Regions from separate parts of the Homo sapiens genome. Here regions 1 and 2 are each linked to region 3. The links come from fine-mapping of genetic effects on gene expression. A gene starts in region 3. Each other region holds a variant in brackets. All regions are shown on one strand. Distances are between the middles of the regions.

The links.
Region 1: its variant is fine-mapped to the expression of NUP54 in whole blood (TOPMed, PIP above 0.99). The same link has a PIP of 0.9 or more in blood mononuclear cells.
Region 2: its variant is fine-mapped to the expression of NUP54 in monocytes after LPS (Quach 2016, PIP 0.95).

What each region holds. Positions count from the first base shown.
Region 1 is chr4:76,122,154-76,124,922 of GRCh38, forward strand. It overlaps NUP54 (nucleoporin 54), which reads right to left. Exons shown (of 12, transcript NM_017426.4): 9 at 2,496-2,603. Among named protein-coding and RNA genes, the nearest start is that of NUP54, 25 kb to the right of the region's middle. The variant T/C (reference allele first, on the strand shown) is at 1,650.
Region 2 is chr4:77,133,945-77,136,713 of GRCh38, forward strand. No RefSeq gene overlaps it. Among named protein-coding and RNA genes, the nearest start is that of CCNG2, 22 kb to the right of the region's middle. The variant G/GTGTA (reference allele first, on the strand shown) is at 1,142.
Region 3 is chr4:76,146,811-76,149,579 of GRCh38, forward strand. NUP54 (nucleoporin 54) reads right to left here and starts at 1,587. Exons shown (of 12, transcript NM_017426.4): 1 at 1,498-1,587. The coding sequence starts at 1,564. LOC124900718 (a long non-coding RNA gene) reads left to right here and starts at 1,739. Exons shown (of 2, transcript XR_007058144.1): 1 at 1,739-1,792; 2 at 2,397-2,769. RefSeq lists an enhancer at 1,537-1,696.

The DNA of each region.
Region 1 (2,769 bases), 25 kb before region 3:
TTAAAACCAACCTTGCATTCCTGAAATAAACTTTACTTGGTCATAGTATATTTTTTAAGAAATTGATAAATAGCTGGATTCTCTTTGCTTATACTTCATTTAGAATGTGGTTTTTTGGTCCGATTTGAGGTATACTCTACATATGACAATTCACCTGTTTTAGGTGTTCAGTTCTATGAATCTGGCAAATACATACAGTCGTGTAACCACCACAGTGATTAAGATACAGAATATTTCCATCACCCCAAGCCCCTTGTAGTCACACTTCTCTCTTCATCTACAGTCCCTGGCAACTACTAATCTGTTATCTGTCCCTAATTTTCTTTTGTATAATGTTATATAAATAGAATCATGCCTTACACAGCCTTTAAGTCTGGCTTTTTTCACTTAGCATAATTTGCATCTCTTTAAAATAGCTGTTTATAATTTCTTTTTTTGAGATGCTACAAACAGAAATGTAAAATGGTACAGTTGCTTTGGAAAACAGTTTACGTAGTTCCTCAAAAAGTTAAACATAGTGTGCATATGACACAGCAATTTCACTCCTAGGTTTATACCCAAGAGAAATAGAAGTATATGTCCAAACAAACACTTGTAAATAAATTTTAATAGCAATATTATTCATAATAGCCAAAAAGGAGAACCACCAAAATGTCCATCAATTGAGTAAAATGTGGTATAGCCATATGATGGAATATTCAGCAATAAATGAATAATAATCATTTATTAGTACCTGAAGTACTATTACATGGTACAACACAGTTGAACTTTGAAAACATTATGCTAAGTAAAAGCCAGTCACAAAAGACCATATATCGTTATGATTCCATTTATATGAGGTTTCCAGAACAGGCAAACCCATATAGGCAAAACTGGTTGCATAGGACTGACAGATTTGCAGTGAAACGGGGAAGTGACTGACAATGGGTACGGGATTTGTCTGTAGGGTGACAGAAATGTTCTAAAATTGATTGTGGTAATAACGGTTATACAAGTCTCTGAATATACTAAAAGCCATTGAATTGTACACTTTAAATGAGTAAATAGTATGGTATGCAAATTATCTTAAGCTGTGAAAAAAGAACAAATGAAGCTGTATAAATTATTCCTCAATTGTCTAGAATAATCAAAATAACACTGGATTAGCTCTTTTGTGGTTAGACAAAATTTGGCAATGAAACTATCTGTCCCTAAGGCCTTTTTCATGTTTCATCTTTCATTTTTCCAACTGTTTCTGTGGTATTTGTTTTCTTACTTCTCTGTAGATTTTGGTAATTTTCATTTTCATAGAAAAATCAAAATAAAACTTCCTCTGAGTTCCAAATCTGTTACCCTAAAGTACATGCAGCATCTTCTTTTTTTTTTCTCCTTTTTTCTGAGATGGAGTCTTGCTCTGTAGCCTAGGCTGGAGTGCAGTGGCGTGATCTCGGCTCACTGCAACCTCCGCCTCCCAGGTTCAAGCAATTCTCGTGCCTCAGCCTCCCAAGTAACTGGAACTACAGGCACAAGCAACCATGCCTGGCTGATTTTTTTGTATTTTAGTAGAGATGGGGTTTCACCGTGTTGCCCAGGCTGGTCTTGAACTCCTGAGCTCAGGCAATCCACTCACCTCGGCCTCCCAAAGTTCTAGGATTACAAGAGTGAGACAC[T/C]GTGCCCGGCCCATGCAGTATCTTCTTATTCTGTTTTGTATATCTACGGTGATGCCTCTTTTCCCACTACTAATTTTGTATATTTTACTCTGTTTTTCCCTTCTTCCAGCTGATGAGATGCTTAGTAATTTTAACGGTCTTTTCAAAGAAACAGTTTTTTAATTTATTCTTTCCACTATTACATTTTTTAGTCTTTCACTAATTTCACATTTATCTTTCTTTCTTTTTAGTTTCTTTTGGCTTATCTTGATATTCCTTTTCTAATTTAACATGAGTACTAAGTTCCTTTATTTTTCACATTTGATTTTTTTAAATGAGAATTTTTTATGGCTGTAAGTTTTCCTCTGAGTACAGATTTTGCTGTTTCCCACTGGTTCTGGTATGTAATATTTCTGTTTTCATGATAGTTTATAATTTCAGTTGTTATTATTCTTTTAATTCCTCCTGTTAATTTGGAAATTCTATTGTTTTTCGACCATTATGGTTACACTCCTTTTTCTAGCACTCAAAAAATTTTCTGAACTATTTTATGAAACTATTTTATGAAATTTATGAGACATCAATAATCTCACAGAAGCTTCCCTTGCACTAAGATGCTTTATTTCTTCACTGCTTTCCCTCAAACTGTCACTAAAATACGAACTTTAGGATATTTTTATTCTCCTCACTCAAACCTATGAGACTTGTTTTCCAATTTCAAAGTTTTACTGAAAGAATTCGGTACTTGTAATTTCACATTATTCTTTCATTTTAGTATTTTTTTTTCTATTTTAAAAATCTATATTTAGTACATTATTTCACACACATAGTCTTATAAACACTGGGGGGGAAAATCCAAATTACTACCTGTAAAGTTCTATGGGAAAGATCCATGAGTTTCCTCTTGTATTGTGCAATTTTGGCTACAGATGTAGTTTGATTCTTTTGTAGCTCACTAATATCTTCAGATATGATCTGTTTAAAAAAAAATTGGGGGGGGGAGGGTTAATCAAATATCACAACTATTTATCAGTTACACCTGTATGGAAATTCTAATCTTGGGATAAGCCTGAGATTCATCTCTCAAAATATAAACTCTTTCCCTATAAATCTGTGCTTTATATTTCTTCCCTTTTTACAT
Region 2 (2,769 bases), 990 kb after region 3:
CAACCCCACACTACCACATCATCATTTCCATTTTGTATAAGATGGTTCCTTGACTTTTCCTCCCAGCTGCAGTTTATTGTACCAAGAGTGACTATTGACCAACGCTGGACCAATCTGAGCACTTACTCTACAAATTTGGAATTGAGGTGGATAAGGAGTAGAGGCAAGGATGAAGAAAGAGAAGGAGGGAGATTGATTCAATTTCCCTATGAGACAGATCAGTAATCTACACACTTGTGAGTTGTGTGTGGCCTTATTCTGCCAGGCAGACAGGGAAACAGAGTAAGCTGGGGTGCATGGACAGAAGAATGTGATGGTTACATAGAGAGAAACACAAATGGGAGGCACAGAGGAAATCAGGCCCACATGTCCCTTATGCTTCCATCAGATACCGCTGCAGTCATATCATAAATTCTCCTTGTTTGCTTCACTTAATTCAACTGGATTTGGTTTTTGTCACTAAGAGGCTCCCAACTAGATACACCATTTTCTCCTCTTTATCACCCTAATGCTATGAAGTTCACTTCCTTTTCTCTTTTTGAAAGAGGAGGAAAAATCGACAAATTCTTCAGCTATACAGTTCCCTTGGGCTTGTGTCCTCCATATGGATTATGGAACATAAAAACCATGTCAACTTTGTTATCTCCCATCGCAGCTGATGTTTGGAACCATTATCGGTACATATGCTTAAATTGAAAAATAACAGTTTAAAACCGAGATAGTGATGTGAAAGCACCTGGCAGGTTGCCTTTCCCAGTAAATATGATTTAGATGCCATTGGATACCAAGAACAGAGGCTCACTCAAGTTTTCGTTTTGTTTTGTTTTTTAATAGTGGGTTTTCAGAAAGATATACATAGACAAAAAGAATCTCACCTACAAGCTAAGGCCTGGCATTGCAGTTCTAAGCCCTAATTTTTCTTTTTTTTTCTTTTTTTTTTTGAGACGATATCACCCAGGCTGGAGTGCACTGGCCCAATCACAGCTCACCGCAGCCTCCAATCCTGGGCTCAAGCAATCCTCCCACCTCAGCTTCCCCAGTAGTTGAGACTACAGGTGCATGCCAGTATGCCCAGCTCAATGTATATGTATATGTATATGTATATGTATATGTATATGTATATGTATATGTGTATATATGT[G/GTGTA]TGTGTGTGTATGTGTATGTGTGTGTGTGTGTGTGTGTGTGTGTATATATATATTAGCTGGTCTCAAACTCCTGACTTCAACTTCAAGCCATCCTCCTGCCTTGGCCTCCCAAAGCACTGGGATTACAGGTATGAGCTGTGGCACCCAGCCTGTAAGCCCTGAATTTTCTAGCTAATCATTCAGTAGCAAAAGTTTGCTGACCCTCCACAATTAACAATTATAGTGGGTTGGTTCCTCTTTGTCTCCACCTTTATTGCTTCTGCCTCTCCTGTCCACCTTCTATTCAGTCTCTTTTCTCTACCTCATTGTTTTCTGTTTTTTCTTACTCATTGTCTCTCTCTCGCGCGCGCCTTTTTTTTTGAGACAGTGTTTTTCCATGTTTCTCAGGCTGGTCTTGAAGACTTCTGGGCTCAGGCCATTGGCCTGTCTTGGCCTCTCAAATTGCTAAGGATTACAGACATAAGCTACTGTGCCCAGCCATGTCTCCTTCTTATAGTTTCATCTTATAACTTTTGTGTGCTGATGACCTGTCATAGCTCAGACTACCCTCATTTTCTCTAAGTGTTTTTTCCCCTCTCAGCTTGTGTGTCATCTACATCTGGCTGGTTCTTTTTTATATTTGCTCTTTTAAACTTTGAAGAGAAAGAGTCTGATTTCTCTAGATAATATCTGTTTTGGAAGAGCTCTTGCATTAATGTCCTCATAATATCCTGGTTTCTATGAGCCATTATATTGAATGTCTTCAGTCTAAAGTCATGGCTAGGAGATGATGTGGATGGTGGGTGTTATGGAGGGTCCATATGGTCTCATGATAGATCATGGCAGCTGAGTGCTGCCTCCCCAGGAGGGACCATCGACATGACTGTCTTGTTTAATATAACATTCAATAAATCCTCCTTTCTCCCTTTCTTTCCTTTTTTATTTTCCTTTTTGTATCCAGCATAGTGATCTGGGGAAATCTCTTTTTAGAACAGGAGAGAAAGGTCCAATCTTTCACATTTATGTGGTCCTGACTCACATGCAAACTTTTCAAAAGAACACTGTGGCCTGGTATTTTTTCATTTGTCATGTGCAGCAGTTTTGAGTGGTCTATGTGAGTTTGGGGAGATCCTTTCTGGAGTCGGTGAGGTCAAAATTATTTTTACTATAATACTAAGATGATATGATCTTTTACTATTTAACTTCATTGACCTTTGTACTCATGGTGTAAAGAAATGGTGGTTAAAATTGCTGGCATTGGCCAGGCATGGCGGCTCACACCTGTAATCCCAGCACTTCGGGAGGCCGAGGTGGGAGGATCACTTGAGCCCAGTAGTTTGGGACCAGCCTGGGCAAGACAGTGAGACTGACCCTGTCTCTTAAATTTAAAAAAAAAAAAATCTGGCATCTGAGTACGACTCAAGGCAGTGGCACCAGACCATACTAGAAGTCATTGTATTTTGTCACTAGTGCAGTAGCAGTAAAAACAAAGTTTTAAGAATGTGCTTGGCAAGGCACCATGACTAATGTCTGTAACCCCAGCACTTTGGAAGGCCGAAGTGGGCAGATCACCTGAGGTAAAGAGTTCAAGACCAGCCTGGCCGACATGGCAAAACCCCGTCTCTACTAAAAATACAAAAATCAGCTG
Region 3 (2,769 bases):
TCTTTTTGAATGCAAAGACGTCTAGCTTACCTTTTAGAATTCGATGCTATATCACATAAAACTAAACTGCTCTCTTTGAGCATTTCCCAAAATTCCAGCAAAGAACTGGGGATTCTTTCTATAATTACAAATCTTATAGAAATTACACATCTTATAGTATCCTAATCTGCTGAGTTGACCAAAGAAATACATTATTATCATTATAACACAAGTTAAAAAACAAAACAGGTTACTGCTGTTCGTATAAGACTTGTTTCTCTTTGGAAACACAAGGACAATAAAATGAAATCTCAATGAAAGATGCAGAAAAAATGAAAAATGACTGCAGGAGTCCAAGAATCCCAGGATGGGCTTGACTGGTGGTGAGTTTATACTTTGGAAGTCCTACCTAATAATTTTAAAGATCTATTCAAAATTATAATCCAAATGCTTATCATTTGGAAGATAAGTGCACATTTAATAAAGGAACACTGTAACTTGCAAAACTTTCCTAAACCACATCTTTTAAGGCAGTAAAAACTTGATACAGATGTTTTTGATTCGAGATAAGGAAATAAATTTCCTTTCCCTATTAGACAAGTAACTGTTCTTTCCCAAACTCCAGGAACCACAATATTCTTGGACTCCAGCTCCCAACACTGGTTACACATACAACCCGCAGTATCTACCTGCACTTGCCAGACTGTTACCAAAATTGAACGGAGTCGCCGAGGTAGTAGAAACACCGAAATTCCCAATATTAAAGTTCACTGCAGGATTAGCAGTTAATCCGAAACCCCCAAAATTAAACCCACTGGCGGTGGAGTTGGCAGTCTCAAGCCCACCAAATCCTGATAGGCGTGTAGGCAAAGAAACAAAATTTTAAAAAGGGGGAGAGGGAAAAAGAAAAGAAAGCAAGATAAGGATTAGAAGAATCAGCAGGAGGTTTCACAGAAGTGAACAAACCTGGTTTTGCTCCAAACAGTTTAAGAAAGCAGAGTGGGGGTGGGGTGGGGCAGATGGAAGAAGCATGACGGATAAACCCCACAGCGAGGACCACAGGGGGCCGGGGGTGGAACTAAGGGAGTCAATGGGCAGTGCCGGTGGATCCCCAGCCCTATCCTCGCCGAGTCCGGCAGCGGGAACCACGCAAGCGTTCCCGCCCATCCAGGAGGCTGAGGTGCAGAGGGGAGGGAGGTTCTCGGGCAAGGGGAGAGGGAAGCAACCTCCAATTTCTCTGAGTAGGACTCCCCGGCAGCGGGAAGCGAACCGCTCAAGCCAGGGCCCTGTGGAAACTCACGCGCGGCAAGCGAGCTTCTAGTGGGACCCCGAGTACCCCCGTGGCCTCCTCGGGTGCCGCCTCGGCCCACTCTGCCGCCGCCCGCCCTTTTCCAATGCCTCTAAAGTCTCCGCGTCGGCGGGAGATTCCAGGATCCCCAGGTCGGAGAGTCTCGGACAGAGGGGGCGGACCAGACCCTTCCCCTTCTTCCCGGGTGAAGGTCTAGGGGGATCACTCACCCGCGGGGGCCGCGGTGGCTGCAGCGGTACCGGAGGTGCCCGAGGGAGCCCCAAAATTGAAGGCCATGTCGCGAAAGCAGGAGACCAAGTAGGTTACTCCTGCGACGCGCAGCGCGCTCCCCTTCTCAGTCCGGCCGGGAAACCGCCAGTCAGATCACCGAGTTCCGCCTCCTTTCTGACCTAGCCTAAGAGGCCGGAAGGCGCCAAGGGCGTAGGAGGTGGGTGGTTGTGAGGGAACGCCCCCAGCCAGCTCACTTCCGGTGGGCTTCACATGCTGTGGGGTGTCACTGTTAAGGTAAAATGCTGGGACGCTCGCGAGGGTGTGCCGCCTGAGAGTCCTTTAAAAACTGCCGTAGGGAGGTTCTTTGGGAAAGGTGTGCAGAGGCTGAAGTTGTTACTGTAGGGATACGCGGTAGACAGCTAGAATTTGTATGTGGTAGGGTTGAAGTTGCTGCCTCATCAACTAGCGGGCCTGGGAGGTCGGGCAGCAGGGCTGGGGTTGAGAACCCCCCCAACACCCACGAGGAGGTGGTATTTGAACCCAGTGCTGAAGGATGAGTAGACGGAGCAGAAGCAGTAAAGAGGATGCACGTTGGAAGAAATGAAAGCGAATGGAATTGTAGCAAACACGTTGCGTTTACTATGTGCCAGGCACTCTTCTAGACATTTTACATAATTTAATCAGCTATCTTATGAGGTGGGTTGCTGCTATCTCCAATTTATAAAAGAGGAAACAGGTACCAAAGGGTCAGGCTGTTTACAGAGTAAATACTCCTAACCACAGCTCTAAGGGGAGCACTGAAAAAGAGGGGAAGAGTGGGCCCCCTCTGTTGTACTTGTAATATAATTTAATCCTCAGAATAAATAAATAGAGAAGATTCTGTAACTGTATTTTGCAGGTGAGATGAGAGAATTGAGGTTTGGAGTTGTTAAGCAGCTTGCCCAAAGTCACCTTGCAGGTAGGTTCTGGAGTCTGGTTTTGGACTCATGTTTCTCCACTCCAGAGTCCCAATTTGTAAAAATTACCATTATATTATATTGCCTTGTAAATTATGGTAAGGATTTCAGACTATTTCTTGAGGGTAATGGGAAACCTTTAAGGGGTTTTAGGCAGAGGACTAGTATGACTAGAATTTTGTTTTTAGAAGATCCCTCTGGCTGCCATAAGGAGAATGGATTGGAAGGAGCCAGAATGCCTGAGGAAGATAGAGCTTTTAGGAGTCTGTTGTAGTTGCACAGGTAGGAGATGATAATGACTTGGATTACATCTGG